2 linked regions of the Homo sapiens genome follow. The protein of the gene in region 2 interacts with the protein of the main gene of each other region in a pairwise test. Each region holds a gene or a part of one and is shown on either strand. Other genes may lie near its edges. The genes, in order: MET and SHC4.

Region 1 (16,646 bases), on a different chromosome or scaffold from region 2:
ATACATTTCAAAAATCAATTTCCTTAGCTGTTTTTAAAATAGTGTTTGAAGTAGCATTAGTCATATTATCCTTCTGCAGATCTACATAATAGTCTCAAATTAACTTTTTCTCAAATGTGGTCATCTCAAAACAACGTGAATAACTCAGAGGAGCTAACATCCTCTAACTGGCTTATTTTCTCCAAGTGGCTGCACCAAAGACATGGCAACACCCCCATGGTGAGCACAGTTCCTCACACATTCAGATTACCTCCCATTTCTCTGTCCTCTTCCTCCTCAACCCTTTCCCTTGGTTTGGTCAGAGCTGCTTTCAAGGCCTTCCGTGCCCCCATTTCTCCAGCCCAGTTTGCTCGTTTCTTCTTTAGGCATTAGGCTTAGTGATTCTCGCCAGAGCCATCTACGCTTTCTTTTCCGTGGTCTAAATCCCTAAGATTTCCTTGGTCTGCTGTGTTTATTCATAGGATACTCAATTTCCTCATTGTGCCCTCTTAAGGGGAGAAAATGTATGTAGAAACTCAAGTGTCCGGAAGTGAGCCTTCTTTTCCTGGCTGGTGTATGCTGAAACTAGTGTTTTTGACACCAAGCCCTTAGGGCAGAGTTTCTTCATGGGTTTTGCTCAGTGCAAAATAAATAGTCACTTCTCAGTAATAAATGATAGATACACTGACTAATGTTAGTTCAGAATCACTTTGATGATGTGTTCTCAACTGACACTGAGTTGCTGCTAGATCCACATTTGCCTGACCAAAAATAGCTAGGACCTATAGGTAGAGTATCATATGTGCTAGGTACTACAGCATTTTCTTTAAAAGAAAGAAATGGAATCTGCCCTTGAGAAGTTTATGATCTAGATACACAGACAAATATCACATATTAAATGAACACAAATTCATAATTATTAAGAGGACATCACATGAGAAACGCTTTCAAAATCATCCTATTTGCTATGAAATAATAGAATTTTTTTTTAAAAATCAAAGTTTGGAACTTAAAAACCTTAACATTTTCAAGCTGTTTCTGCATACATCACCTTTCTGATACCAAAACGACCTTACAAGATAGGCAAGTCTGATAACATCTTAACATTCTTATGTTATAGACAAGGAAACTGAGCTTGAGACTAGCTCCATGCTATTTCAATAGCACCATACCACCTTTCCTCAGCCATCAACTATTGGAAACATTTTCCATGGAGGCATCATTAGGGATGCTTAAGATAGTGGTAAATGATGAATATAACATATCTAGTCCCTGGAGTTTTTGTCACCTTCTCTTTCTCCAGTTCTCTCTCTCTTTTTTTTTTTTAATTTCTTTTCTTTTCTTTTTTTCTTTTCTTTGTAGTGAGACATACCGAGAAAAGGTTTCATTCATATGTGTGGGGCATTCTGCTCCTGTTATCAGATTAAGAGCCGTGAATAATTTTGTAATCTATCCTTCTATCAGAAAGCCCATTCTCAGATATCTTTTCAGCTGTGTTAAACAGGTTAGTATATTCCGCTTGGGATTTGTTTCAATAAAAACATCCAGTAAAATCTGACTACTTTGCTTTTCATGGGACAAAATGAAAAAAGTGCTTTTATAAGCTGTAAAACTTAATTGAGAGAAAAAATCACGTGTGGCATTTGTAGCAGGAGGTATGAGCTCAGTGAAATAAAAAAGTTAACTTTGTAATCACATACCCAGGTACACATATTTCTCTCTGTGATTGCATAAATGTGTGCAAGTATGTTTATGTAGGTTACTCCCATTGATTTTAATTTCTATAATAAATTATGTAGCTATAGGGCCCACAGGCGATTATATAATGGGCAATAGAATTTGAAAATGTATCTCTCCTAATATAATTAAGGATAGCAATTATGAAATGTGCTTAGAGAATCACAAGTTATCGTGAAAGCCAGGTTCCTGTACTCCAAGAATGTGAATGAGGATTTAGTCATTCATTCAGGACAATTTTTTGACAACCTACGAGGCATAGTTCTAAAATCTGGCATTTCCACAGAGTATAAAACAGATGAAAACCTCTAACCTCATGACACTCTGTTCTATTGAGTTGGCAAACAATAAAGAAATACATAACTGAAATGTGTTGTATGTCAGGTGATGATAATAGCTTCAAGGTAGAATAAAATGGAAAAGAGAATAGTGACTGTCAAGGATAAGAGAGAGTGGGATGGTGATTGAAAAACTCAATAGTGAGGTCAGGGAAGGCTTGTCTTCAAAGGTGGGCTTTGGGCTAGAATCTGAAGGAGATAAGGAAGTGAGCCAGGCGCATATGAGGAGCACTTCTCAGGAGTGCTATTCTCATCTTGTTTTTCCTGAAATTGTGCAGTTCACAGCTTGCACAACTGTCCATAGACTCCCTGATTTTGGAGGGAGATACCTGAATAGTGCCCCTGTTTTTGTAGGGAAATACCTGGACAGTGCCTGCCATCATTAGCTACCATGTTAAAGATGAAGATACAGGAGTGGCCCACATCTCTTGGTTTATGAGACATGGAAGAAGAAGACCCAGAGTGTTGTTTTGTTTTTTTTTTTGTTTTTTTGTTTTGTTTTGTTTTGTTTTGTTTTGCATCCGCCTGGTCCCATCCCATACTCCATCCTCTATCAGAGATATTGCTCCATTCAGACAATTTTCCTTCTTATTTTCCACACTGTGAGCCTGTCACAGTGGGATTTGTTGAGAAGGATACCCATGGCTTTTTTCACTGATCCCTTCCATAGTATAAATCTAAAGACAGCAAGAGGCAGTTGCTGATGGTGTGCAGCTTCTGTCTGCTATGCACTTCTTTCTTTCCCCCTCGCTCTCCTTCCTTTTCCTTTCCAGTATTAAGTCACTGCATTGGATTTTCTTCCTCTTTTCTTCCTTTTCCCTTATTCCCCTATTTATATCCTGTATCAAGATTTGCAAACAGGTAACTTAAATGAGGAAAACTAACCATTTCACTAGGGATTGACAAACTGCTTAGGAAAAGCAGAGGGGCAGTCACTGCTTGGCGTGATTAGAGCTGTTGTGAGGCTCAGTGTATGGCATGGGCCCATGTGGTAGTATCTTTCAGATTTTCAAGAGAAGCTAGGACTCTCCCAATTTTAAAATGTTGACTCAGTGTCTTTAAAACACCATACAGCTTACAGTGGCAGAAAGTCTGCAAGCCAGATTGGGCTCCTGATGGTCCCAATTGCAGCAGCATGCATGGCCCGAGAGCCCCAGGACTGCTTCTACAAAATATTTTATTTTCTAAAATTCTCAGAAAATTAACTAAACAAATTTTTTAAAACCAATATTTTATGTCAGTTCCTATTGGCACGTGGTTATTTTTCTAAACTCATCAGCCCACATACTTTACATCAAACTATGTACGTTTCTAAACTAAAGGGTAATCTAGTTATTTCATTCTTAAACTGAAGTAGTAGTTTTCTGAAACCTGAATCCATCATGGCTTTATGCATCAATTTCATTTCCAAGTTCTCTGATTCAGGATAAACTCCCCCTTTGGAATATTGTCTTTCTCTCTCTCTCTCTCTGTCTCTCTCTCTCTCTGTCTCTGTCTCTGGAAATGACTGAACTTCACCCGTTGTTATTACCCTGCCATTGAAATTCAAAACATGCACTGCCCTCCTGGTTTCCAGTGCCCTTTAAAAGCAATCAGATCAGTGTTAAAATCTATTTTTCCAAAGGAATAAAAGCTCACAGGTTGTGCACTAATTTGTTTCCTTTAATCCTAAAATCTCAGTGAAATGCCCAAGCTAGCAGCCCTCCAGAAGGCCACTGTGTTAGAAAGGGAGATTATGTACTGTATTTCTTCCTACTATTTTAAATGCAAATATAATAATATATCATGAAACAGTGCACATACAGTATACATATTAAGATCAGTGGTCTATTCCTGTTTTGAAATGGTCTCCTACTCCTTAATAGTTGGAATTCTGAGGCAGCACCTAGACTCTCAGGTCCAATTTGAAAATGTATGTTTTTTTTTAAAAAAGAATGACTTGGGGAATAACTGTTTGATAAGACCGTGGAAGATTTCTAATTTTTAATATTTTATTAAAAATGTAAAGAAAGACATTCAAAGCTGAGACCTTTGAAATAATATGGTCTTTGCAAGTCAGAGAAAAAGAGAAGTGGTAAATTTATTAGAGATAGGTTGCCTCCTTTGAGGCCTAATCATGTGGGAAAGGAAAACCCAGCCAAGGTTTGGGTCCATAAGACAATTCAACCTAGCTTTAAAAATAGGTTTTGGCTTTGCTTGGGACCAGCATTGGGACCAGAGTGTATCTAGACCAGCATTTTAGCTATTAAATTTTAAACCTAGGGGTCTTTTAAGGGAAATTTAATCCATGTGTCTTTGATTCACTAAATCTTAAATCATTACTCACAAACTGTATGTCCCTCTAAGCTCTTTGATGTCCAAGAGATCTCTAAAATTGTGTAAGGCCTTTTTGTTCCAGAAAAAAATAGGAAGTTGGTTTTTGCTAAGCGTCAATAAACAGCATCCTCAAAAATCTGATTAGGTCTAAAATCTTGCAACCATGACAGTATGGATGTTTGAATGATGCAATGTGAAAATTTTAAGCACTTTTTAAAGTCCTTGTTTACCAGTAATACTCAGTTGTAATCCTTACTAACCCCAAGGAAATTATTTTGACACATTTCCTCTCTGTTTTGTAATATAAATACAAAGCCCAAATATTCATCATTTTATTCTGGCACATAGTAGGTACTCAGTAAGTATTTTGTAGAGTGTTGAATGACTCTTTCTTCTGCCCAGAAACTTCTAGCTAATGTCAGTTCTTCTATTCAATATTGATATCCATCTGTCATACCTTGGAATAAGATCTATTCTAAGTCAGTGACCTTGTTCGACAAATTTTTAAAATAAGCCATCTAACTAAATATATGACATTTATTGAAATTCATTTTGCACCATGAAGCAACTGCCTTGCAAAGAGTGCTGAAAATAGGAAGGAATTTCTAGACTAATTTGATTAAATATTCAGTTGTTGCCATATGCTTTCTGAAAATTGATTTTCCCCCTTTTACTATTCCTGTCATCCTTCCTCCCACCTTGACATGCTTACTGATTGAAAGCTATGCACAGAAAAAGGGCAGGTCGCTTGTATGTATAAGCAAGAGCAGCAAGTCCAAACAGGCTTAGAAAACGTAATGCTATAATCACGAGTTGTCATAATATAGGAGAGGGGAGAGAGGAATACTCAGCAATAAGAGTGGTGTTGGGTATTGCTCCAAATTACATGGATGACACATCTTTGAACTCTATTGTGTCGGGGGAAAACACCTTCTTGCTGTAGTTAGATTTCCTGTTTGTGAATGTGTATTTTCTGGTAACCAGACTTCCTATATGAATTTGACATAGCTTTAAGTGCATTTCAAATGACATGATTAAAGAATGGCTGCTTTGGAGACAGCAGCTCCTTCTCTCTTAAAGAAATAAACTATCATGCTAAAATATAGGCATTGAGATCTTTCTTGATACCATATTGTGAATTTCTAATGGCTCATCACATTTTTATCCTCAGAAAACCTTTCCTGGTGAAAAGCATGCTGTTTTAGTATCACATTTGGGGTGATGGAATTGGCAATTTCTTATATCTTGAGGGGGCGGGGGGGTAAAAGGAAAATTGTGTTAATAGGGTCTTAAAATAGAGATTCTCTTAGGTTAACCTGAAGATTTACTAAATACATTATCATTACAGCTTGTTTTGACATTTAATTGTAGATGGCACTGTATCAGCACTGACTTATTTATACAGCTTTGTTTAGACATGCCTAATTTTTATTTCATTGGTGGAACCAAACCATCAGTAATAAATCATATATCAGTGTTTTTGTACACATTCGTATTTACATGACTTTTAAAATTCCAATGTAAAGGTCTCACAACTTGAAAAATGAATGAATGCCTGAGTATTTGAACAGTTGGGAAAATGTAGTTCAATTTAAGAAAGATTTTTTATGACAATTCTTATGCCATATATAGAAAATAGATAATAAAGGAGAAGGCCTGGAGGTTTAGATGGGATATTGGATCAATGAGCAAAGGAAGGGGAAAGGTGGGCGGGATATGCTGAAGGGTCATGGGCTTGAGTGCACCCTAAGTCATAAAGAGGGTGTCCCATTAAGAATCAGGCTGCCTGAATTCTAAGTAGGAAAGAGGCAGGTCAAAATGGTGTATAGGCCAGGCACAGTGGCTCACGCTTGTAATCCCAGCACTTTAGGAGGCCAAGGTGGGTGGATGGCTTGAGCTCAGGAGTTTGAGACCAGCCTGGGCAACATAGCAAAACCCCCCTCTTAAAAAAATTACAAAAAGTAGCTGGACATGGTGGCGCACACTTGCAGTCCCAGCTACTCAGGAGGCTGAGGTGGGAGGATCACCTGAGCCTGGGAGGCCAAGGCTGTAGTGAGCCGAGATCATACCACTGCACTCCAGCATGGGTGACAAAGAGAGACCCTGTCTCAGAAAAAGTGGGGGAGGGAGGGTATGGAATAAAGTAAAGCTCATGGGAAAATGGTACCTTTACCATTTTCCCACCTTGGGAAATGGTGGGAAAATTTAGACATTGCTTTACAAAGTCTAAATTTCTGCCAACTTGTGTTACATGTGGTTTGATTCTGGAGAAAGATAGACTATCATCTATCCAGTCCTAAATTGGGCCTCTTAGTCTGTCCTCCCCTCAGTTACCAGGAAGAATAGCAGGAATATGTCACAGAAGCAGAGAAAGCTTTTATTCTGAGTGTCAGAGGCATGTTCTAAGCACTCTGTTATCTACTCCCAGGCACTCTAAATGAAATTCCATTTTCTCTGAGGAAATCAAAATATAAAAAGAAAACTCAGGCAAATTTATAAAGGTTTTACACCATTTTCATGACTGAAATATTCTAGCATATCTAGCTCATTATAATCTATAAATTCCTGTTGGGACCAAAAGTTATGGCCCTAAAACCTGTTATCTGTAATCCTTTTCCACTGGGATATTGTCTCTGGGGATATATATTAGCTTTCCTTGAGGATACTACCTTGAAACCATTTCTTTGGTCCTTGACTATACAAAGTTCATACTAGCATGGATGTAGGAATTGTATTTTTCTATTCTAAATACGAATTTAGACAGTGATATAAAGATTCAAGGAAAGCTTCTATCAAGGCCTGCCTTCACTACTTGTCTTTTGGCTCCTCTGAGGGTCTTAGGTGAGCCACTTTCATCTGATTCTGCCCTCACTTCAGGCAGAATTCATATGGCTCCAGCCAATGGCTACACTGTCCAAAGTGAGACTGTGGTCTCACAACCATCTGGTTAATACAAAGACAGCAAGCCAATATGATCACTTAGGACCTAGGCAAACCTTTGGGCTTAAAATATTACCTTAGCTATTGTTGTTTTTAATGAGTATCAAATAGTATGATATTTGTAATTTGTATTATGTAAAGAAGTAACCAAAGCAGAGATTGTTGACAAAAAAAAAAACTTCCTCCTAACATAAATGAATATGCATTTTGGACTTTTCAAAAATTCCCTTTCTGTCTTGTCAAAATTAAGATATTTCTAAATTTTATTTCGGTCTCACTAACACATACTTGGATTATTGTTCATTGAAATCTGTACGTCAAGGCCCAGTGATTTTAAACATTCTTTTGGTCTTCAAAGAACTTACCAAAAAAAAATTGTTCTTTAAATCACCAGAAAAGTGCAGATAAAATCCCAGACAGTTTCATTAATGACAATGAAAGGTGACAGCCCTTGAATCTATGTCATAAGTTGATTAATTACTTTCCAAACATTATTAAAGATATTAGACGAATAACTTAGACTGGTATCCAGGATCAAGGTTCCTTCATAATCCCTAAATGGGTTTTAATTTTCAGAGTTAGATGATCATTATATGTGATTTATTTCTTTAACATCTTTAGACTGTTGGCTTTATTGAAAAGAGAGGAGAGTATCTGTTTCAATGTGTTTTCTTTTCCCTGAAGTTATTCCTTGCAGAATTCAATAAAACCGGTTTTGAAATAAAAATAATTAAATGCTGGCATTTTCTGTTAATAAGGGCCCATAGACCTGATGAATTATATAAACATTACAAGGAATTTACCACTGAGTTCATAATTATGTAACCATTTAATGCCCAAACCTGCCTACTGACAGTGAAGACGTTCAATGAGAATGGACATTGTGCATTAGGATAAGGATGACCTGGAGTGAACTTTCATTCTTGTTTTGGTTCTTTCCCATTTTGCCCAATTCATAGCACCTGATTCTCTTAACCAGCAAGTCTGTTTGCATGTCTCCAGTCCAATTTTTCGCCATGCCCACTGCAGTGATTCCAAACTCTCACCATTTCTTAAGCTCTTGCATCTTTTGGGCTCTCCTTATTCTCAGTATAAGATCTTTCCTTATAGTTTAGAGAGTAAACACAAGCCCAGTTGTTTCCATGTCACCCATTATTACCTCTTTCTGTCTCAAAGGATGAAACAGTCTTTTCTACCTAAGTCTTGACCCTGTTGTTCCCCACACCTGTGAGCACCTCCTCCCTCTATCCTACCCACCTTACAACTCTTCCCGTGTTTAAAATCTCCCTCACCATTTTTCTTTTTTAAAAAAATTATATTTTAGGCTCAGTGGTACATGCGCAGATTTGTTACATAGGTAAACTCGTGCCACAGGGTTTATTTCATCACCCAGGTATTAAGCCTAGTACCCAATAGTTATCTTTTCTGCTCCTCTCCCTCCTCTGCCCCCTCAAGTAGACCCCAATGTCTGTTGTTCCTTTCTTTGTGTTCATAGGTTCTCATCGTTTAGCTCCCACTTATAAGTGAGAACATGCAGTATTTGGTTTTCTGTTCCTTTGTTAGTTTGCTAAGGATAACAGCCTCCAATTCCATCCATGTTTCTGCAAAAGACAGAATCTCATTCTTTTTTATGTCTGCATAGTATTCCATGGCTTCTCTATTTTTCATTCACCTCTTACTCAACTTACTGATTCTTCTAGAAAGAAATAAAACACACACATCAGGCATCCTGATAGGATCTTGAATACACAATTTCCTTAAGTAGTCACTCCTGTTTTCATTTTAGCCTTTAAATAATGAATTCTTGAAAATAAATGTCTAACTCAGTTTCTCTACTTTCTTCATTCCCATTCATTCTTAAGTCATTCAACTCAAGCAGTCTGTACCACATGCCCAAGAAAGTGTCCTCATTCTAATCACCAGTGCCCTCCTCATGGCCAGATCTGATGGACACTGGTTTTTATCCCTTTTGACCCGTCTGTAGAATTTGACACCATACATTTTATTTCTCCCTTCTCGAAAGTTCTCCTTAGCTTATCTCTCCACATTTTCTTTGCCTACAATTGTTCTTTTTACCCTTTAAAACATAAAGGTTAGATTCTAGTCTTCTGTAAGGCTCCATCTGAATTCCTCCTTTCTACTTACAAAACACATTCACAAGTGATCTCACTTCAGTGACTTCCAATACACCGATGGACGAGTGGTTCACAAACCGCTCTCTCTCACTTCCTCTTTTCTCTAGACCACCACTTTCATGTTGTCAGCTACCTTACAGACTCCACCACTTAGATGACCAGAAGCTACATCAGGGTTATTAACTCAACTAATTACTTTTACCCTCAAAGTCTCCTCTCCCTATTTTCCTTACCTTGGTTTATGATACCCAGATAGACAATTTTTTAGCCATTCTTGGCTTTTCAGTCTCCTCTACAATCAAAATCCATATTGAATAATTCCCACATAATTTTTCTCACTTTAATATGTGTATAATCTAGTCCTTCCTTTCTTTCCATAATGCTAGAAACTTTGTTCAGGAACATTCTTTTGTATATTGATTGATTCTGTTGTCCATTCATTCAATAAATGCTTACTAAGTGCCATGTAATGACACTATGCTAAGGGCTAAAAGTGGAGCTTACACTCTGATGGGAGACACAGATAAATAAGTTACTATATAGTGTGGTAAAGGCTAGATAAGGGGAAGACAGGTTTGATGTTTGAGCACATAGGAGAGTTCCTAATTCCTTACTAGAAGGTAAGAGATGCATCAGAGAAGGCTTCCCAGAACTGTTCCCTAAGATGAGGCTTGAAGAGAGAGGACAACTTATCCATGTGAAGTTGAGGGCAAGAATATCCATAAAGAGGGATCCACATGTGCTGAAACCCAGAGTGGCTGAGCACATGGCTTGCTTCAAGAACTGGAAGAGGGCAGAGTGGCCAGAGCCTAGATTTCTAATGGTGTGATGGCAAGAGGCAAGACTGGAGAGTGGGGCAGAAAAAAATGGTATGTGGTTTGTAAGCTCTGCCAAGGGGTTGACATTTTTTTTCAGCAAAGAAGTGACATAGTCAAATTGTCAGTTTAGAAAGATATCTCTGGTATGCTAGGGGGCAGATGATCAGGGTGAGAATGGAGAGGGAAGACCAGCGAGGAAGCTGTTGTAGTAATCCAGGTATGAAGTGACACTGCCCTGACCATGGGCATGGAAGCCAATAAGGAGATGGACATGTTTAAAATATTTGTAGGTGGGTGTCAAAGATGATGTCCTAGAAATATGGGACATGTTCAGCACTGAGGTAGGATACAGAGAGGGAGACCAGGTTTTGTGGGAGTAGATGGAGATAACAGAAGGATATCCAACTGCTCCTTCTTGGTCTCTTGTCCCATCTGTCTTTGTCTCCTGACCTATTAGCTTTGGTGGCGCCATCACTCAGTCCTCCTCTCTTCATTCTCTACAGTCCCTCTCCTCGGAGATCCCATCCACTCTCATGGCTTTTCATGATGTCTACATGCTGACAACTTCTTAATTTAAATCTCTAGCCCAGACCTTTCTCCTTAACCCCGGGACTCAAACATCCAACTGCATGCCCGGCATCTCCACTTAGATGCCTAAAAAATGTATGTCAGGCTGAGTGCAGTGGCTCATGCCTGTAATCCCAGCACTTTGGGAGGCTGAGGCGGGTGGATAGTGAGGCGGGTGGTGGTCAGGAGTTCAAGACCAGCCTGGCCAACATGGTGAAACCCCGTCTCTACTAAAAATACAAAATTTAGCCAGGTGTGGTGATGTGTGCCTGTAATCCCAACTACTCAGGAGGCTGAGGCAGGAGAATCGCTTGAACTTGGGAGGCGGAGGTTGCAGTTAGCCAACACCACATCACTGCACTCCAGCCTGGGCAACAGAGCAAGACTCCATGTCAAAAAAATAAAAATAAAAAAACCTCCATTGTGGGCAAAACTACATTCCTGGTCTCCTCATATCCTACAAACATGCTTCACCAACCAGAGTCTGCATGTCGGTAACTGGCAAAGCCATTCTCTCTGTTAAAAAAGTCAAAATCCTTGGCATATTCTCCTTTTTTTCTCACATGCCTCAGATCTGACTCCATCAGTAAATCCGGATGGAGTTCGATCTGAGGCATGTGACAAAATAGCTCTGTCTTCAAAATAGAACCAGAATTCGGCCACATCTCCCCACTCTCCCCTTCCTTCCTGGCCCAGGCCACCAGGGTCCCCCTCCTGGAACACCACTGGAGCCTCCCAGCTGGCCTCACCACTCCACCTTTGCCCTGAACTGCCCCCCAGCCACTAGCAGTCTTCTCTCCCATATGATCGAGGTGAATACATTCCAACATAATCCCCCCTTGTTCAACACCCTGCAATGACTCCCCATTTCACTCCAATAAAAACCTGAATCTCCCAGGGGCCTACAAGGCCTTACATGCTCTGCTTCTTTGTCCTTTTGATCTCAGCTCCCGGTCAACAAAGTCCAGGCTTACTGGCCCCCTTGCTGTGCTTCAGACACACCAGGCACATTTAGTTCTTCCTTCTTGCCTCTGCCCAGAAATCTCTTTTCCCATCTCAGACATCTGGGTCCACAAAAGCCACCTTCCCAATTTCCGAGCTACAAACCTATCCCCATACCTCTCCTCCAGGCAGTTCTGATGCCCCAGCCCTACTTTTTGTTTTTCCCTGTAACACACATCAACTTCTGAAACACTACATCATCAGCTTGTTATGGGTATTAATTGTTGTCCCCAGCTAAAAAGTAAGTTCCACAAGAGCAGGGGTGTTGGGTTTTGTTTACTGATGTATCCCAAGCATCTGATGCATAGTAGGACCCCAGTAAATACTTGTCAAATTTGGTCTTAAATAGCTGTTGCATAGACAAAAGTGATATTGGAGAGATGGATTTCGGGATTCTCTGGAGATCCTTCAACAAAACATATCAGACTTTCTTTAATGTGGCCACAGCCTAATCTTATACCTTTTTCCACTGTCAACCCAGCCCACCTGGCCTCTATGCCAATTGCAGCTTCCTGGACAACCCTGCATCTTCTCCCCAGGTGCCCGTGTGTGAGTCCACTCCACCCAAAGTGTCTGTCCCCTACCTCAGCTGCACCTGAGCAGCTCCAACTTATCCTGCAAGACACAGCTCAAGTAGTATCCCCTCTGAAATACTCCTTGGCCCCGCTTTCTGTCTGCATAGTTAGCTCTTCTCCCCCGTGCTGCTCCACTGACATGCGCACACCTTTACAGCACAGCCTGGGCGTGTTGCAGGTGGAAGGTGGAGATTCCCAGTCAAGGGGCAACACCTGTATGGTTGGAAAAGTTGTTTGTTTTAATTTCTTGCCCTCTCTTCTCTCTTCTATTTCTTTCCTCTCCCATAAATACACATACCGCCTATATACACACAACCTGCCCTGAATTGTTTTCCTTGAATTGATGAGTTACGTAAATGCAATCCTAAGCACAGTTGTTTTCAGGTTGTCCTAACCTTTTGCTTTATTGATTTTTCAAGGATCCAGAGTGTTTACTGAGTTTCAGAAATTGGATTCTGTACTTATTTTTCTGTACTATCCTAGTTTTATGAGAATCTATTTGCTCAGCATTCTCTATTCTTTTAAAAGTGTTTAAGATTTTTGTAAACAGTTTTGTTTGGTTCTTTATTTTCTGGTGACATATTGATCTCAACATAATGCTATTCATATACTTTTAATTCTTCTTCCAACACTGTTAGGATTGCATTATGTTCACCCAAGGAATCCACATCTGTACAAAATGTGGCCAGGTTTGGCTATTCCTTCACATTCACAGTATTCTCATGATTTCTAACAATTCTTGTCTACTTTGCCTAAATAAGAAAATGTCATATACTGACAATTTTGATCGTGAAAAAGAGACCTTAGTTCATACCAGTGTCAGAGTCTACTTGCAAACATTGATTTCCAAGAAAATTTCTCAGGTGTGAGCAAATAAGCAAAATAAATTCAGACCTAAGAGAAAATAGCACTACAAGGAACGCCCAGCTCATTCAAACGCTCTGCATTTTGAGACTAGAGGGGGCTTGGCCTTTGGCACCCTCACACCTCTCCCCTTTGTCTCTCTGTCCCTGGGTGCTGATTTCTCTTTCTTTGTGTGACAGCCACTGTGAAAAGAATGGGGTTCACTCACCACCTGCATTCCTCCACAGCCATTTGATATCTGCTTTCGATAACAGCAGAGGAAACTGATCAGTCATATAAATCCAATCCTGAGCATAGTTCCTCGTTTGGAATTGTACCATGCTTTATGCCGAGGACATTTTCAAACACGGAGGGAGGGGATGTCTGATTCATTCGTGAGTAATGTACCAGCTTCCTCTCCAACTTGTCTCCCTTCAGTGGTTCACATTCTGACTATTCAGTCGGTTTATCCTTTCCAAACCCAGTATTTGAATGCAACTGGCAAAGGTTGATTGCCTCTTTTTTTTTTTAATATATAGACTTGGAAAGATGTTTCTCAAATGTGATTTGCGGATTTATGTTATTCAGTCTTCCTGGATTAATTGAACAAAAACTGGTAACACTGCTACACAGTCTGAATCACAAAATTATGTCCATCCATTTGGCTGAAAAATACGAAAACAAATACTTGTATAAGTTTTCATGCATTTTAGCACTTTCTTTACATTGGGGAAGTTCAACCTTCACACTTTCAAGGGCAATGAAACATTTTTGTCTGACCTACAATTTATTAATGGGACAAAAGCCCATCTGTCAATCAGGGCTCTGAGAGTTCAATGTATTTTCTGAACAATATTTTTTACATTATGTACAATGGTAAAAACAAATGTCCATTTATTCTTCTTTCCAAGAAGTTGAGTACTTTCAACCATTCTTAAAAGGACAAAGATGTTTGCTGACAGAATATGAATTTATAAAGGATAATCTTGAGGATATAATGGCATTCTATTCTTTTTATCTTTACTCTTGCCATATCAGAGTTGGATAATAGTCTCAATCATATGTTACAACTAGAAAATGCACAATTGGCTTTTTCTTATGCTAACAGGCAGCCATTTTCAACTTTTTAAATGATTATAGGACTAAGAGGGGATGCAAAAACAGATAAGAATCTGAATAAAAGCACTATCTGTCAAAGAAACAACATTTGTGTAATAATCAAGAAACCGTTTAGAGCACCCCCTGGAAACATTAATTATAACACATGCAAATCATTCCTGTACAAAGCTTAACTTGTTTATCTCCTATAGCCACCTGTATTTGAATTTTTTAATAAGCTCATTTATTATAAATAAAGCATGTAAATCAATCTGGGAATACCTTTTCTGTTTCAGAAATTTCATGTAAATGACAGGCTGCCACATACAGTACAACTATAGAGGGGAAAAAGTTTCTTTACTCCCTTTCATATAGTTATACCTTCATATGACACTTAAAACCACCTGCCAGGAACTTTTAAAACATGTTTTAGATGCACAGAAGCAAACCCAAATGAAAAAATGCTATGCAGTTTTGCAATACATATATACCACAGAAAGCTTTAAAAACATTCTACCCCAACAGATAAATAGATTTGGCCCAAATCTTTTTAATGTGAGTTTTGTGGGTAAAAAAGATTATTGTTCCCTTATTTTTCCCCATTTGCTGACGACTAGGATTGTCATATAAAATACATTCCTGGGACATGCTTATACTAAACAAATTATCCACTGTTTATCTGAAATTCAAATTTAACTCAGCATCCTATATCTTTACTTGCTAAATCTCAGTTGGGATATGGGCTTACTCTTTTTTTTTTTTTTTTTTTTTTTTTTTGAGACAGAGTCTGGCTCTGTCATCCAGGCTGGAGTGCAATGGTGTGATCACGGTTCACTGCAGCCTCAACCTCCCTAGCTCAAGTGATTCTCCCACCTCAGCTTCCACAGTAGCTGGGACTATAGGCACATGCCACCATGCCTGGCTAATTTTTTTATTTTTTGTAGAGATGGGGTTTGCCCAGGCTGGTCTCAAACTCCTGAACTCAAGCAATCGTCTGGCCTCAGCCTCCTGAAGTGCTGGGATTGCTGGCGTGAGTCACAGTGCCTGGCCTGAGCTAACTCTTTTTTAAAGAGTTAAAATACTGGTTCCTATTTGTTTTTACTTCTCTAGTATGGGAGGCTGTTACTGTGGCTTCTGTCTTGGGGGGCAATTTTCGAAGGGCTTCAAGAACTTGAACCGAGGTTAGAGGAAAACCACAAGATGGCTAAAGGGTGGGAAAAGAAGAAATAACACTATTTAAACTTTAGATGAGAGGACTAAAGTGATGAAACAGTCACCAGGTATTTGGAGTGGTCTCACCCAAGGGACTGTGCCAACTTCCTCATTTTTTATGAGGGCAGGCAAAAACTGGCCAAAACACAAGTTAGGATAATAAGCATAGTAGCTATTATTAAATGCTAGGGTGTGCTGCATAACTGAAGGACAGTGTTTCTCACAGTTTATCTCCAACTCTCATGGCCAACCCATGAGATGTATATCATTATCCCCACGTTTTGAATATAAGAAACTGACACTCAAATCAGAAGGCATGTCAGTGAAAAAGGCCATATTCACATCCCATCTAAGTCTGTCTGACACTAAAGCCCACACTCTCTCCACTACACTCCACCTTGTCTCCAGAATGTTTTGGGCTGTTTAAATGTGATTATACCAAAGAGCAGTTGAATGCACTGAAAAATTCTGAAGATTCCTCCTGTCCCTTCGATTCACTGTTGGAAACCATTGTCAAGGTAGTGTCTGGCTACGATAGAAGGGATTTTTGACATGGCCTATTGTTTTATCTTTTTAAAGTAAATGTAGGTGCTTTTGATGATCATAACACTAACTGTTAAGTCTTTAGGCATAAGAATCAAGCATTCAACTAAGCATGTTTACAAATTTGCTTTCAGCCCAGTGGATCTATCCACTTTTCCATTTAGGTTGCACATTTAGATTTCGGAGTTTATCCTGTTATCTTCAAATCCACGGACTGTACACTCTTTGAGGGAAGAAACTCTTAGTATCTAGTCAAGTACGTGGCATGCAATGGGTGCTCCCAAATACTTGATTAATATCATATGATATAATGTAATATGATTCTTCATAAACAGTGAGTGTTTATAAATACAGTATTTTAAATGTCATTAGGAATCTTCTATTGGAATCTTAACTTTATTTTAATAGACCTACTTTTAAAGTTAATAAACATAATATAAATGTGGACAGGGCTAAGATTTTTCCCTAAGATTTCACTCTGGCAAGTCTTCCTGGAGATTTAGCCATGGCTATTTTTATGACTGTAATTTCCTTAATATGGGG
Region 2 (16,646 bases):
AGGGAGCATATAATGAGGTCATCATAGCATAACAGAAGCAACACAGGGACCCAGGGACCCAGGGGAAGGCAGGAAAAATGAGAGGAAGAAAGCAGATGAGGAATGAGGAGGAATGAGAGGTAAATATTCTTGCCCAGAGCCTGTCTCCTCAGCCCCAGGGATGTGGGGTCCAACTGATTTAGCTACTTCCCTCAGTTTTGCCAGGAGGAGATGTAGGGCAGGGAAAAGGAGGTCAACAAGGATTGAAGGGAAGATTTATGAAGATGCAGAAAGGCCTTTCCAGGGAAAGAAATGTCTGAACAGGCTTGGCAGACAGGATGTGATGGGTGCTTTATTTCCCTGGGGGACCAGGGAGCTTGGGAGGAGGATGCCGCTTTCACTGGTCACTCTCAACCATTTAATTCAGAACCTGTGTTTGGATCCCAAGGGAGCTCAGGCTCCCAAAGTCATGAATATACATAAGCCTAATCCAGCATTAGGGACAATAAGATAATGAAGGTGGCACCCTTAATTCCTTTGGTTGCCAGTTTGTCTTAATTTTTTAATTAATGAACAATTTCAGATGTCAAAGCCTTGAGACACGGAGTAATGCAATCTTTTCTGAGAGTTCTTTATCTCTTCCTATGTGTGATTTCCACCCCACCCCGACACCCCACACCCCCAGTGTTTCAGCAGTTTCCTCTTCTCCATTCCTGAAGAACCTGCATTTCCTTTTCCCAGCTCTGGTTTTGGCTTCCTGTGTGCTAAGCCTTTGCAGTTGTCATCATGTCTTCAGGATGCATTTGATAGGTACAGGAAGTCGCACCAGACGGAAGATGGAACCAACAATCAATAAAAAAAGAACTATGTTTCTAAGAAAAATGCATCATGGCTTCCCACAGGAGTTGTGAACCATATGTCCTAATATCCCTGTAACAATGGGTCTAATTTTTAGCTCTTCTGCTCTGCCCTCCCGGCCATCTCAACAAGAAAGAAAATAGATCTTTTAACCTGCTGCTCCCCGGCTAATGATCTGTAGTAAAGATTGCCTTTCCTTTTAACTCATTCATCAGATACCACAAAATAAAATACGTCCCTCCTCTCCCGCTAGCTTTATTTCTCTCGGCTACTAGTTTAGTATATTTATGGTGTATGAGTCATCAAGCTGCCTCCTGATTGGATAAAAACCAAGCACCTCTGAGACCGTCAGTCAATTACAGCTATTCTCAGCTTCATTCACAGATTTATTAGCTTGCACACACACAGAGAAATTCATTCGGCAAAGTTCATTCATAAAAATTTCAACACGCTGCGTATCATCCTGCACATCTCAGCTTTCGGCTGCAAATGGGCTTCTGAAAAAAGCTCCGAGAGGAATCCAGGAGGGAGGGAAGCTCTGAGCGAGGGTAGGCAGGCTGGGAGGGGATCTGAGGAACACGGACCCATCACAAGTCAGTGAAACAATGCGGAGCAGCGCCCGTCAGTAGTACTCCTGGCTGGTGGCCCAGAACGGGATGCAAGACAAGATCTTCCAAGAGAGGGCAGCCTTTGGAATCAACGAACCCAGGCAAAAGGGCCTTTGGTTCATAGATACATTTTTTTTTCCTTTTTAAATGAACAATCACTGGAACAAATAAAGGGTTAATAGGCCAGTCATTTGCCCCGCCCTGTGAGAGCCGAAGGGAGCAGGTTCGAAAGTTCCTGTGTGCAGAACAGAAGGCTGGGGTGAGGGTGGGAGTCGGGTGCTAAATATTTCTACTAGGCTCCTGCAAGGCTAGTGATGCAGCGGGCCCCCCGACCGGCGCTCGCCCGGGTTCTGCGCCTAAGAGTTGGCCGTGAGCGACCCGCGCCGCCGGGAGCCTGGGTCTAGGCTCTCCCGACAAGGATTCCAAGGCGAGAACACTGGTGCCTCTGCCTGGGCCAGGGAGAGACTGAAATCAGAGCAGGGGAGGCGTTTCCCCCATGGGCTGTCACCCTTAAGGGGCCGGGAGCCGAGGTGGGCGAGCTCGAGAGCAGAGTTGGAGAGGTGGCTGCTGTGAGTTGCATCGGGCGTTGAGGTATCTGATGTCTGCACCGTTTATCTACCAGACGACGAGGCGATTTATGCAACAGTATCCTGTTTCAGCACTGCCAAGGCTATGCGAGAACGCGGCCAGGACAGCCTGGCAGGACTCGTGCTGTATGTAGGACTCTTCGGGCACCCCGGGATGCTGCACAGGGCCAAGTACAGCCGCTTTCGGAACGAGTCGATCACGTCCTTGGACGAAGGTAGCTCCGGAGGCTCGGTCGGGAACAAGGGCTCGCCGCAGCCTCCCCACCCCGCCCTGGCACCTCACCTGCCGACTGAAGATGCCACCTTGCCGTCGCAGGAGAGCCCCACCCCACTGTGCACCTTGATCCCCCGCATGGCAAGCATGAAGCTGGCCAACCCGGCCACTTTGCTGAGTCTGAAAAACTTTTGCCTGGGTACCAAAGAGGTGCCTCGGCTGAAGCTCCAGGAAAGCCGGGACCCAGGTTCCAGCGGCCCCTCTTCCCCAGAAACCAGTTTAAGTAGGTCCGGGACTGCACCTCCACCGCAGCAGGACCTGGTGGGACACAGGGCAACCGCCCTAACCCCTGATTCGTGCCCGCTTCCTGGCCCTGGGGAGCCAACACTTAGGAGCAGGCAGGACAGGCACTTTCTACAGCACCTGTTGGGGATGGGCATGAACTACTGTGTGAGGGTAAGTCCATTTTCCTCTCTGCCCTCTAAGAACTTCCGTGGAAGGGGGCATCTTCTCTGCTTTCTGCAAGGGGTCTAATGTTACCTGCCTGGGTTCTGTGTTTGGACAGGACATGATTCAACTGGACCAAGGCGGAGGGGAGCTGGGTTTATATATGTCCCTACAACTATCTGACTTGTACTGGAGTCAGGCAGCCTTTGGTTCAAGGACATGAACCGGTGCTAACTTGTAGGACATGAACTTGTGGGTACTTGGCAGGTGTAGAGGCAAGTTCTGATAGAGGCAGCTGATGGCACCACTTTGTCCCCGCTGGACCTAGTATTCTGGCCAAAAAGAGTCAAGGACTTCAAATCTGATCAGTGATTGAGACCTGGTAGGTTATACTGGCCATTGTATTTTGGATGAATACAGTAAAGATTTCTGTGCTGTAGAAACACATGGTGTGTAAGGGGCTTGAATTATTCTTTAAAAATTTATTTCAGCATTTAACAAACACTTCTCAAAACACGTCCGAGTCTCTAACCTTGTGCCAGGAGCTAGTCTTAGCTCTCCGGTGCACATTTATTGCCTTTACTGCCTACGCTGCAGCAAGTAGGCCTTGTCCATGAGCTATGGGCAAAATCAAGGTCCTTACTGGCCTTGTATCTGTCCTTGCTCAGTCAAGATGTGGGCAAATGAAGATTTGGCCTGTGCCCTTTTGCAGCTCAGATTTCAATGAGATCAATGAATACATGCGAAATACTAAGATAATAATACTTAGCAATAGATAGCTAATATGAGAATGCTGAGGGAATTCAGAAAAAAGGAAAGATTATGTGATCTGGGATTCATTCACATGGGGAACCCTCAGGAGAAGATGAATCTTGGAAGAAATGTCAGATCTGGGTTGGCAGAAAGGAGGGGATTCCTGGTAGGCCAAGAATAGGAGCAAAGTCACTGTGGTGGCTGCAGGGGAGCATCACACAGGCTGGGCCTTATGGAGGAGGAAGGGGAATGCTGGAGAATAGTGGGTGACTGAGGGAGGGGGTGGCTTGTAGTACTCAAACAAGTATGAGTTGAATAAAGACAAATAGAGATCACGGGTAGCTTGGGAGACCGAAGTTGACTGAAGCTCTTAAATGCCAAATGAGGAGATTGTAAATACTGTGATTGATAAATGAGAATCCTCCTAGGTTTGTAGGGCATGACTTGCTGAAAGTAATTTTTAAAAGACCAGTTGGTTGATTTATTTGACATGGATTGAAGCAGGGAAAAATTAGAGACTTGGAGGACAGTAAGAAAGATACTCTGAGAGTTTAGGTATGAGGCAATGAGAACACTGATTAAGGTGGAGAGGAGAGAAAGGAGGTGAATGGTAAGGCATTCTGTGACAGAAGAATGAGAGAAGCCTCAACAACCCTGGGAGATTAAGCAGATCATTTCAAATCATAATATAACTAATAGAGTAGTGAACATTTATGGAGCAGTGGGTAGATTGATTATTTTGTTACCATTGTTGTTTATTGGGGTTGTGATTGATTATTGATGGAGGGTTGTAAAGGGTGAAAAAAAAACTTTCAAATTGAAGTCTCAGAATGACATCAGTGATGCCAATGACTGAAGCAGAGTAAATTAGGAAATGGACTCATTTTAAGTTTGTTTTTGACATATTAAATTTAATGTAATTATTTGTAAATAATGCTAATATGTAGGTAGACAGTCATATAAAACTAGCACTCAGGCGAGATGTCTGATCTGAAGGTATAGAGAGCTAGCCCAAGAACTGTATTACAGACAATTAGGATCTCAGTATTACAAACAGACAATTAGGATCTCAGGGAAGTTCAAATAATAAACACTGGAAGGGTTACAGAGAGAGCAGGCTTGGGCAGTCCTGGCAAATGGGTAACTAAAACCTCTAAAGCAGATAAATGTATGGGACATGCAGCTCTCGCCCTCACCCACAGTGACATGGCACATAATGGAAATATTTTCATGTTTCTACTCAAAGTTCATGGGCATATTCTCATTTATCAAGATTAGGTGTGTGCCAGGCCCTCATGGGAAAACGAGTGAGTCTCCAAACCTGGGCTCTCTGCACTTGCCTTACCATCACCTACACATCCTCTAGCCTCTGCCTCAGCTTTCCTTTCCTCTTGTACCTCCTGCAACCTCCCCATACCCACACACCTGTACAATTTTAAATGTGAAAAGAGTTGCTGTGTGATCTCCAGTTTCCCTAGGGAGTGCCTCCTCTGGCGTTTTAGATTTTTAATGGGGGCACCATCTGTCTTTTCATGGCAATAATCACTGACTCCAGAAAAAGTGCTGACCCCACGACCCAAATGAACCTCACAAGATTGCCGATATCCGTGATGTCCGATACAAGCTAATGACATCTCTTATGAAGTCAAAATACGTGAAAGAACTTACTTATTAAGTTTTATAGAATCCTAACTTTGAAAGACGGAAGACTCAGAAGTTATCAAGGTCAATTCCTTAATGGTGAAACCAAACCCCAGGTTTTTCAAAGGCCACACAGATGAGTTAAAGCAGAGTGAGATCTAGAGCCCAAATCTCCTGTGTGCCATTCTTATCTGTCTTCACCACAGGTTTCCATCCTGGTTGTTGTTCTGTTCCTCAGAATTCTTTTGAGATGTGAACCAATTTTGAAAAATGAAATGCTAAGCTATTAATTTACAGTAAAAATATCATACCAAATGAACCAAAGTTGTGAGCTCTGTATTCCCATCTGTAGGAAAAAGCACATAAAAAATTTTAAATCAAACCTTGCTTGGTAATAATGGATTCATAGGAGAGAACTGAGAGAAAGATGATCTTAATGGCTAGTTGACACAGGGCTGGTGGATTTAGGGGCAAAGTTTACAGGAAAAAAGCCACTTCATATTCTACCTTCTTATCCATATCATGTGACTGCTCCTCTCCCTGCCCCAACTTATTTGCTAATCCATTCATCCATTTATTTAACAAATATGTATTATGAATCAATTATGCAGCAGGAACTGTTCTAGGCACTGGGCATCCATGAACAAAATGAATCAGTTCTAAGCATCAGTAAACAAAAGAGACCAGGTCTGAATCATTGTGAAATATTTTAGTGAGCGGAGATAGGTTCAATTGAATAAATGAAAAAATATACTATTTCAGATGGCATTAAGTGCTATGGAGAGCAATAAAGTGGGGTAAGTGAAAAAGGCAGTAGCTTGGGTGGGAATGGAAGGCATATTACTCTTGGGTAAAAAGTGGGATTGTTATAGCTACTCTTTACTTTGTTTTCTTGCATATTTTCTCTTTATGATAGGGACTATATTTTTCATCTGCGCTAAGCTAGAGTTGACTTTGGGTTAAATATTCTTTTTAAAAAATGGTTCTTCATTTGGTCTTATGATGTAGAATAAATTATATAGCTGAAAACACTTTATGAATCCTGACCACCTGTTTTGAGTAACTTTAATTGAAGCTCAGACTTTGGACCACCTGAAGGTCTCTCAGGGAAGGGGGCCTAGCAAACCATTCTTTGAAAGATATTGAGCCAGAAATAGGACAGTGAGATCCCAGTCTGGGCAAAGTAGTGAGGTGGGCAAAGCCCATTAAATGGTGTCAAATGTGACTTCATTCTCCCCATAAGACTGAGTCTCCTTTCTTTAGAGGCCTTTCCAAGTCCATTCATCCATCAGCAGACATTCATTTAAAGGTCTCCCAGGTGCCCAACATAGTGGGGAATGTGGAAAATCTACAACGTGACAGTGTTCTCCTCTTTAAAATGAGAGAATTGGCTTGAAAGCCCCCTCGCAGCACCAGTATTTAATGAATGTAGGGTTCCTTTCTCACACGGGAGGTGTTGAAAATGTTAGTTTCCTTTCCAATTCTCAACTTGGCTCAAAGACTTAATAAAGCAGAGGCAAAGAAACCAACCTTGACGAGCTTTGGCAGGTAACTGCAGTGGCCCTCACCACAACCCCCTGAGGAAGGCCGTGTTCTCCAGGTGAGGACACTGAGAGCCCAGGTGTCTGTGATCCACAGGATACTTCACAACTAGTAAGTAGCAGACTGAGGATTCCTAACCAGGTGTGTCTCACTCCAATGTTCCTCCACTTCCCAACCTCTCACTTGCCTCCAAGCAAGACAGGCAGCCTCTGAAGTATGGGAATGGAGTAGCGTAGATGAGAGGCCACACTGTGCAGGATAGCCTCATCATAGGACCAGCCCATGGAACTTGCCTTGTGATATGCATTTGCATGATTTCAGTCTCTTCACTTCAGCCCAGCCCAGCCAACTGTTTCCCAGATCGCATTAGTTTCCTAGGGCTTCTGTAACAAGTCCCACAAACTGCGTGGCTTACTACTATAGAAATCGATTCTCTCACAGTTCTTGAGGCTGGACGTCTGAAATCAAGATATCAGCCAAGTCACGCTGTCTCTAAAAGCTCTAGGGGAGGAATCTTAGAGCTCTTCCTTGTCTCTTCTAGCTTTTGGCAGTTGCCTGCAATTCTTGGTGCTCCTTGGCTTGTAGATGCATCACTCCAATCTCTGCCTCTGTCTTCACATGCATTCTCTCTGTGTGTCCATGGCCAAATTTCCCTCTTTTTTATAAGAACATCAGTCATTGGATTAGGGCTCACTCTCATCTAATATAATCTCATCTTTATTTGATGACATTTGCAAAGACCCTATTTCCAAAGAAGGTCACACTCACAGGTTCTGAGGGTTAAGACTTGGGCATATCTTTTTTGGTGGACATAATTCAACCCAAAACAGTCCCCAAGAGCATTTATTGCAATGTGTTTGCTCACATGGGCCTTCTTGGGTATCAAGCTCATCAGCTTTGTGTGCAAATAGAAATTTGTGTTGAAAGATTTTCTTTACTTCCTTTATAAATCCCACAGTATACTCTTACCATCCGTCTTCTCCTGTCTAAGGTATCTTATCACTGACCCAGTAAACTAGTATTGTCAATCATCTGTTGTCTAGACTAGATGTAGTCCACAGTACCACAATGTTACATCTACCTCAAGTAGCTTTTCCATAGGAGAATACAGGTCTAGGAGTTTGGAGACGTGCATTGAAGTAACGGCTCTGACACTAAGCTGTGTGATCTTGGGTGGGTCACTTCACCTCTGTGGGCCTCATTTTCTCATATTTAAAAGAAGTTTCAGCCAGGCACAGTGGCTCATGCCTGTAACCCCAGCACTTAGGGAGGCTGAGGCACGCATATCACTTGAGGTCAGGAGTTCGAGACCAGCCAGGCCAACATGGTGAAACCTCATCTCTACTAGAAATACACAAATTAGCCGGGCATGTTTGCATGCACCTGTACTCCCAGCTACTTGGGAGGCTGAGGTGGGAGGATTGCTTGAACCTGGGAAGTGGAGATTGTAGTGAGCTGAGATCATGCCACTACACTGCAGCCTGGGCGACAGAGCAAGACTCTGTCTCAAAAAAAAAAAAAAAAAAAAAGAAAGAAAGAAAGAAAGAAAGAAAAAGAAAAAAAGAAGAAGAAGTTTGAACAAAATGCTGCTTAAAATCCTGAGACTCCAGGTCTTCTTTCCTACCTGTTTGAAACCCCTTATTATTAGGATCTCTTTTGGTTAGAAAGAGTTACCTTGAGGAAATAATGTTTATCCACTTTATGTTAGCAGAGAAGAGAAAGAATGTCCTTCAGGGATGCATTCACTTCTATTTTAGCACCCTCTTACTAACACTGAGCTGGCTTCACCAGTAAGGCAGAAAGGAGGGTGTTATACTGGCATGGGTGGAGGCAGTAAGTTTTAGAGAGATGGAGGGTGGTAGAACAGCATCCAAGAGTAGAATTCCAGGGAGGGGTGAAGGGTGGGCTAGTTCGGGGGCAGGCCAGGGTTGGAAGAGGTGAGCGATAGTGGATGGGATTGTGGGAACATGGCATTCCTCATGTGTCTGGCCAGCTAGGTCTGACTGGACTTGGTGTCCAACAGGAGGACTGCAGAAGTGACAGAAATTAAGCCATCTCTATTTTCTCTGGACAAAAGAGCCAAGAGAAAAAGGCCTTGCCACACACATAGCCTGGTAACTCTAACCTTGAAAGAGGGAGATTTGTGACTCCAGGAGACTCCTGGAGAGACAGTCCCATGGTTTACACAATGAAGCCAGACCTGGGTCGCTCAGGTACCCACAGCAAAGAAACATGGCTTTCTGCCTTTGTAAATTTCCTTCTTTTCTAAGTTATTGGTGGTTGAGAGGGAGGTAGTATGGATGGGAGGAAATAATTCCAGCTAAAACTGATGACTTGGCATTGAGGGTATTATATTTTCCTTCCTATTTCTTTCTTGGAGTAGACGTGGAAGTAGATTCTGCTGGAACTTAGAGAAAGCCTGGCAGGTTTGACCCGTTCCCCTGTTCTTCTCTCTAGACCTTCACATATCCCTTGATTGGTCCAGTCCTTTCATGCCCCTGGACACTAGAGCCTTAACTGCAAGAGTCTTAGAGATCAGTGAGTCCACACACTTCATTTTGCAGTTGAGGAAACTAAGGCTCAGACATGTGAAGTGACTTGCCCCCAACCACACATCTACCAGTGGTGGAGCCCAGACAAGAGCTCCCAGTTCTGTGTACAGCACTCTATTTTCTACCTCCACCTTGCTTCATCTTCCCCCACTTCCTGAAATAAATATGCTACACCAAATGCCTCTACATGATTAAAATGCTGCGTGTGCTTTTTAGAAAGATAATTACAAAAACTTCTTTCTAATGGGAAAATTGTCTTAAAATAGCAGTGAGAAGAAAAGAGGGAGCATAGAAGGGTGGCAAGGAGACCAAAGAGCACTGGCTTGGCCAGTTTCAACCTTTTGATTAAGGAGGTCCCTGCGGATGGCAGTGTGTCCATGTTGGGCCAGGACTTGTTACCACATGCATGGACTGGCTCCCATTTCATTCATTGCTGCAACCCTAATGACCTTAGGGTCATTTCCCCAATATGGTTTCCTCTCATTTCCATGTTCATATTACTCTGAAGCCAATACGGTGTTATCATATGGAGGGACCGAACCAAGCCTGGACCCCAATATGACAGTTCCATCACCAGGAGAGTGATCTAAATGATGCACACAGGCTGCCCCACACCCCGCTCCTACCCAGCTTCACTCACTTACATCATCTGTCTGCACCTGAAGGTGGCTAGGTTTGCACACCCACCCGTGGTATTGGAATGTGAAGACATTTCTAGTCCCTTTGTCTTTCATTTTCCCCTTCAGAATATGTGGGAAAGAAGCTTAGAATGTCCTCTTCCTGGGTAAACATACTGGGATGTCTTTCTTTTACGCAAAGGGACAGAGTACTGGGGGCTGCAGGAAACCCAAGAGAGGGATCCTGCCTTCTCAACTCATGGAGCTTTTTCTCATTGTAACAATGTTGCAAAGAGTTTTTAAGGGTGGTAGAACTCTAGGATTAGTACAGGCTGTTCCCATTTCATGAAGAGATTGCGGGTGAAGAGTTAATTTGTACAGCAGTTCTTTGAGACTGAAATTTCTCAGAGAAATAAAACTAAAACTTGATAAGCCTTCTCATACAGTTAGGGACAGGATAAAATAACAAACTGTATGTACAAGGCTTAGCACAGAGCCTGTCTCACAGTAGGTCCCAAGTGGAGGGAAGAGAATGGATTTCAATAGCCTAGGGGGTGCCTCTGGGCCGAAAACTCAGGATAGACTAAACTTGGTTTTGGCATTTCCCCACATTCCTTTGGCATACTTTCTCCCGGCCAGCAGCGCCACCCTGGCAGAACTTTCTTCCCTAAGTCTTGCCTTGTGCTGCTCACCAGGGAGGGCCTGCCTGCCTTCTTCTCTAAAGCTGCCTAATGTTTATCCGCTAGTCCCCTGCTCCTCCAGTGCAGCAAAGCGAAAAGCATCTGCATTTTGGAAAGATGTTTATTTACTTCATTGACTCTTCATTGTAGTGTTTCCCAAAGTTTGCTGAGGACCACCTGTATCAGTTAAAAATGCTTGTTAAAATGCAGATTCCCAGTCTCTAGCTTGGACTTACTGGACCAGAATGTCTGAGGCTGGGGCCCAGAAACCTGCATTTTTGGCAAACTGCTTATGTGATTCTGCGGCAGAGAAGATTTGGGAACCTCTGCTGAGTCCAGTCAGAGCAATGGTTCTCAACGGGGGATTATTTTGCCACTCAAGGGACATTTGGTAATGTCTGGAGACATTTTTAATTGTCTTAGCTGGGAGGGGAGGTGAATGCTACTGGCCTTTAGTGGTTGGAGGGCAGGTTGCAGCTAAACAGCCTGCAAGGCCCAGGGCAGCTCCCACAACACAGAATTGTGAGGTCCAACACATCAGAAGTGCTGAGGCTGAGAAACCTTGAGCCAGTGGGATGAAGTGTATGAACCCGGGATGTAGATTAGGAGGCAATATTAAATGGAAAAATAAACAACTGCTCAGTGATTCCTGTAAATCGAATCTAAGCCACTTCTACATCTTCTCATTTTCTTCTTTCCCCTCTTTTAAATCTACAGATTCTCTAAAAATTATAGTTCACACCACTTTCCACCCAAACAATATTCCTGTGGCTTCCACATCATGATCTCAAGTCATGGGATGAGGGTGAGCCACATGAGCCATATGTTGCTATGAGCTACTCGTACATCAAGGATGTCCACATTAGGACAGATTCTACCTTAACCCAGGAGCACTCGGGCTAAATGACATTGACAGGCTAGCTTACTTTCTTTTTCTGTGGAGGGAAATGGAAATATGAGATTTTATTATAATTTATTTGGAAATATAGGAACATAACATCACATTCTCATTAACATAATAGCTATGATTTGTTGAGCTCTGTGTATGTTGCAGGAAGCTTGCATCAATTACCTCACAATGACCCTGTGGAGTGGGTAGATGGAGAGGAAACTGACACCAAGAGAGGCCCATTGTCTGGCCTTGATGCTTATAAGTAGCAAGCATCAGTATTGAAATGGGAGTCCAACATGTCAACTCCACTACTGTAGTTTGCTTTACACAGTGTTTGTTTTTTTTTAACTTTTATTTTAAGTTCAGGGGTACATGTTACATAGGTAAACTTGTGTCATGGGGGGTTGTTGTACAGATTATTTCATCACTCAGGTATTAAGCCTGGTACCCATTAGTTATTTTTCCTAATCCTCTCCCTCCTCTCATCCTCCACCCTCTGATAGGCCCCAATGTGTGTTGTTCCCCTCTATATGTCCATGCGTTCTCATCATTTAGTTCCCACTTTTAAGTGAGAACATGCAGTATTTGGTTTTCTGTTCATGCATTAGTTTGCTAAGGATAATGGCCTCCAGCTCCATCCATGTCCCTGCAAAGGACATGATCTCATTCGTTTTTATGGCTGCATAGTATTCCATGGTATATATGTACCACATTTTCTTTATCCAGTCTATCACTGATCTTCATTTAGGTTGATTCCATGTCTTTGCTATTGTGAATAGTGCTGCAGTGAACATACATGTGCATGTGTCTTTATAATAGAACGATTTATATTCCTTTGGGTATATACCCAGTAATGGGATTGCTGGGTCAAATGGTATTTCTGTCTTTAGATCTTTGAAGAATTACCACACTATCTTCCACAATGGTTGAACTATTTGCACTCCCACCAACAGTGTATGAGCATTCCCTTTTCTCCACAATCTCACCAGCATCTGTTATTTTTTGACATTTTAATAACCATTCTGACTGGTGTGAGATGGTATGTGGTTTTGATTTGCATTGTTCTAATGATCAGTGATGTTGAGCCTTTTTCATGTGATAGTTGGCCACATGGATGTCTTCTTTCGAGAAGTGTCTGTTCATGTCCTTTGCCCATTTTTCAATGGGTTTTTTTTCTTGTAAATTTGTTTAAGTTCCTTATAGATGGTGAGTACTAGACCTTTGTTGGGTGCATAGTTTGCAAAACTTTTCTCCCATTCTGTAGGTTGTCTGTTTACTCTGTTGATAGTTTCTTTTGCTGTGCAGATAGCTTTGTATCTTAATCATGGTATCCTACTCTTACTAGTAACTTCATTTTCACAGGGAAATGCATTAAGATTTTTAACAACTAATTTACAAGTAAATTTTAAGAGCAGAGCCTGTCTTGGGGTTGAAAACTTCCTCTAGTTAGAGGGGTTGACATTCCAGTTGAAAAACCCATGTGCTTTAGGGACAACCCCAGAAATTGGATTTTTACCCTTAATATCATCAGCAAATAATTTATTATATATGAATCATTTATTGGGAAGTGGTAAAATGCATAATTCAAACTTAATCTTTTTTAACCTAATGCCAATCCTGGCTCCTTGAAAGGCCATTGTGCCTCCCACATCCCTCTCAGCTTGGTTCCTTTAACCCTGGACTCAGAACTCATCTGATAGGTTAGACTACAAAGTTCTGTTTCATGGTGAGTTAAGCTCTCCAAGGTCACAGGGCTCATCGGCAGCAGCGCAAAGACTAAATTTCACATCTCCTTACTCCCAGGCCAGTGGTCTTTCCACTACATTATGTGAATGAGACATAATTCTTGCATGAGGAGGTGTGGTAGGAAAGTAAAGCAAAGATGTCCACACACATTACTGTAATAAATGTTAGGTTATAATAAATGAAACCAAAGTGATACCAATGAAGGATTATGGGAGTTCAGAGAAGAAAGGGCACACCTTCCATTTGAGATAATTAGAGAAAGTTTCTTGGAGGAAGAGGTATCTTACCTGAGTTTTAAGAAATAGGTAGAGTTTCCATAGGCTGAGATGGAGAGAGAACATCCTAGGCAAAGTGAAGGCATGGAGGTGGGAAAGTGGAGGATGTATTTGGGGAGCAGTAAGTGATTTGACTTGGTTAAACAGTGCAAGAGGCATATGTAGGAAATCAGAAGGAAAATAAGATGGACTGATACAACAAGGTTGTATAGTACCTGAAAAGCTGGGTTTTCACCAGAAAGCCACTGGATTTTTTTTTAAATGGGGGAATGACAAATGCAGAGATATGCTTTAGGAAGATTACATGGGCTGCAATGCTCAGAGAGGATGCAAGAGGAGGGAGCCTGGAGAAAGGCAACCAGAAGAAACAGAGTGGTAACAAAGGCAGTGGCACTGGGAAGAGAGGGGAAAGATGGGACACCTAAGGGAGGAAGAAGCCACCAGCTTCTCACCCCTTTGGAAATGGGTCACAGGCAGGAAAGTGAGGGGGTAGGAAGGATGTGGCTGGGGATGAGTCCCATTGTACACCTGCTGTGTTCAAGGTGACCCCGAAAGCATCCAGGTGGAAATCTCCAGCAAAAAATAGAATAGTTAGGACTGGGGAGAAATTATTTTTGTTGTTATTGTCATCAAGGCCCGTGGAATGGACAAGGCTGCCACAAGGAGAGGGTAGAGCAGGATTTAGGATTTAGGTGTTCTATGGAAAGGGGAGGAAGGGAATGGGCAGTATGAGGAGCAGGATGAAGAGAGGACAGGTCACCTAGGGAGAGGGTGGAGAGAGTTTCCAGGAGAGAGAGGTTGGTCAAAACCATGTCAAAATCCGTGGAGTGTTCAAGGAAGATGAGAACTGAGAAAGAACCGCAGGGCTTGGTCTTTTGTCTTCCTACTCCTACCCTCCTCCAGGATATTAACGCCAACCATCGCGACCCAAGCACACCAGTGGATATCCCACACCTCCACTGTCACCTCCGCCCACTCAGTGAATGGTGCCTCCCTGTTGTCCAAGTCAGAAGTCTGGGGGCATTCTAGACCACTCACTCTGTCTTGCTGCACGCAGCCTCCTCTTATCACAAACTGTCAATTCCACCTTTATGACATTTCTCACACACTCCCATTTCCCTCCATCCCCACTGCAGTTTCTAAGGTGGGCTCTAGTATGCACCATTTTAAAACTTATTAGATCATCTTCTCATGGAGCTAATATTCTGTGAAACACAGGTTGGGAAACTCTGCTACTATAGCTTTCATTTGAAACTAGGAGATCAATAATCATAATACAAGGTAGAAAATGATATATGCCTATAGACACAGTCATATACATCAGTGTGATAAAGTAGATATGTCTTCTATCTGGTGGAGATGTCTTCTAGCTGAGTAATCAAGGAAAGCTTCCTAAGGAGATGGCCTCTGAGATGGTCCCTAATGATCGGTTAGAAGTTTAACCATAGGGAATATATATATATGTAATTTTATATATTATCTAAAATATATATGAAATTTAATAATATATAAATTTTATATATAATAATATAAATACAATTATATAATATAAAATTATAAATATAATTATATAATATAAAATAATATATACAATTATATAATATAAAATAAACACATATTATTATATAATTATGTATTTACTATATTATAAAAATATATTTTATATGTTTATTGTATGTTAATAAATATATTTATTGTATTATATTTATATTATTTATTAATAATAAATATTTTAATAATATTAATATATTATTTTATATATTATTTCATATTTCATATGTTAAAATTATATATAATATATAATCTGCATATTAATATATTATATAAATTATATGTATAATTTATAACTTGTATACATACATTATAAAATTATTAATATACTAATTATAATATATAAATATTACATAATTTATATATATATTAATTTGTAATTATATATAATTATAAAATTATATTACTTTACATATATATAATTTTTTTAAGGTATTGTAGATGAGGGAATATAGATAAGGAATTATAGGTTATCCGCAAGGGAGGGCACCGATTTTAGTTGGGCCAGAGTAAAAGCTGCTGGAAAAGAATGGTGGGTAATAATGCTGAGATTCGATCCAGATTATAACAAGTCTTAAGCATCAGCCTAAGAAGTTTAGGTGTCTGAGCAGAGGCATGAGGATTTGCGCTGCCAAACAAAGTGCCTTGAGGTGGGGAAGCCCATTAAGAGGAGATTACAGCAATAGTCAAGGTGAGAAGTGTTTGTATCAAGGTCTTGATACAGGCAATGATGTAAAGAGATAGAGAGATCGTGGAAGAATAATTTGATGAAGAGGGTAGAATTCAGTCCAGCCTCCCTAAGGTTTTTTTTTTTTTTTTTGAGACGGAGTCTCACTCTGTCGCCCAGGCTGGAGTGCAGTGGCATGATCTAGGCTCACTGCAAGCTCTGCATCCTGGATTAATGCCAGTCTCCTGCCTCAGCCTCCCAAGTAGCTGGGACTACAGGCGCCCACCACCATGCCCAGCTAATTTTTTGTATTTTTAGTAGAGACGGAGTTTCACCGTGTTAGCCAGGATGGTCTCGATCTCCTGACCTCATGATCCACCCGCCTCAGCCTCCCAAAGTGCTGGGATTACAGGCGTGAGCCACCGCGCCTGGCCAGCCTGCCTAAGGTTTTGAGGTAAGTGGCCTAGGATGGGATGGGAGAGATGCCAGTGGAAGACACAGGACTACAGAAGGACAAGCAGTGTTGAGAGGGAACGGATGAGGTTCCATTCCCAACATGTTGAGTTTGAGGTGGCAGAGTCATCTAGATGAGAGGGAGGTGTGTGATTTTTCTTTTTTGAGACAAGGTCTCGCTCTGTCACCCAGGGTGGGATACAGTGGTGCAATCACGGCTCACTGCAGCCTCAACCTCCCAGGCTCAAGCCATCCTCCCACCTAAGCCTCCCAAGTAGCTGGGACTCCAGGCAAACACCAACAGGCTTGGCTAATTTTTAAAATTTCTGTAGAGACTGGGCCTTGCTATGTTGCCCAGGCTGGTCTCAAACTCCAGGGCTCAAGTAATTCTCCTGCCTCGGCCTTCCAAAGTGTTGGGATTACAGGCGTGAGCCACTTCGCCCAGCCCAGTGTGTTTACTATCTGCTTAAATTATGTGATTTCAATAGCAGTTACAATTGCAATATACAGGTGCCATATACAGCAATTACAATGGCACAAACATAGCAGAATTCTTGGTAAGCCCACAATTCAAATACTCACAG

Evidence for each region.
Region 1: the proteins of SHC4 (region 2) and MET interact in binary tests that used the Homo sapiens proteins (3 or more experiments, as listed by UniProt).

The regions. Positions count from the first base shown.
Region 1 is NC_000007.14:116,674,462-116,691,107, forward strand, and holds part of MET (hepatocyte growth factor receptor isoform b preproprotein), read left to right. Parts: intron 1-13,479; exon of another isoform or gene 13,480-13,566; intron 13,567-16,646. UniProt on the Homo sapiens protein: Receptor tyrosine kinase that transduces signals from the extracellular matrix into the cytoplasm by binding to hepatocyte growth factor/HGF ligand. Regulates many physiological processes including proliferation, scattering, morphogenesis and survival.
Region 2 is NC_000015.10:48,948,487-48,965,132, reverse strand, and holds the start of SHC4 (SHC-transforming protein 4), read left to right. Parts: upstream 1-1,213; 5' UTR 1,214-2,117; coding exon 2,118-2,702; intron 2,703-16,646. UniProt on the Homo sapiens protein: Activates both Ras-dependent and Ras-independent migratory pathways in melanomas. Contributes to the early phases of agrin-induced tyrosine phosphorylation of CHRNB1.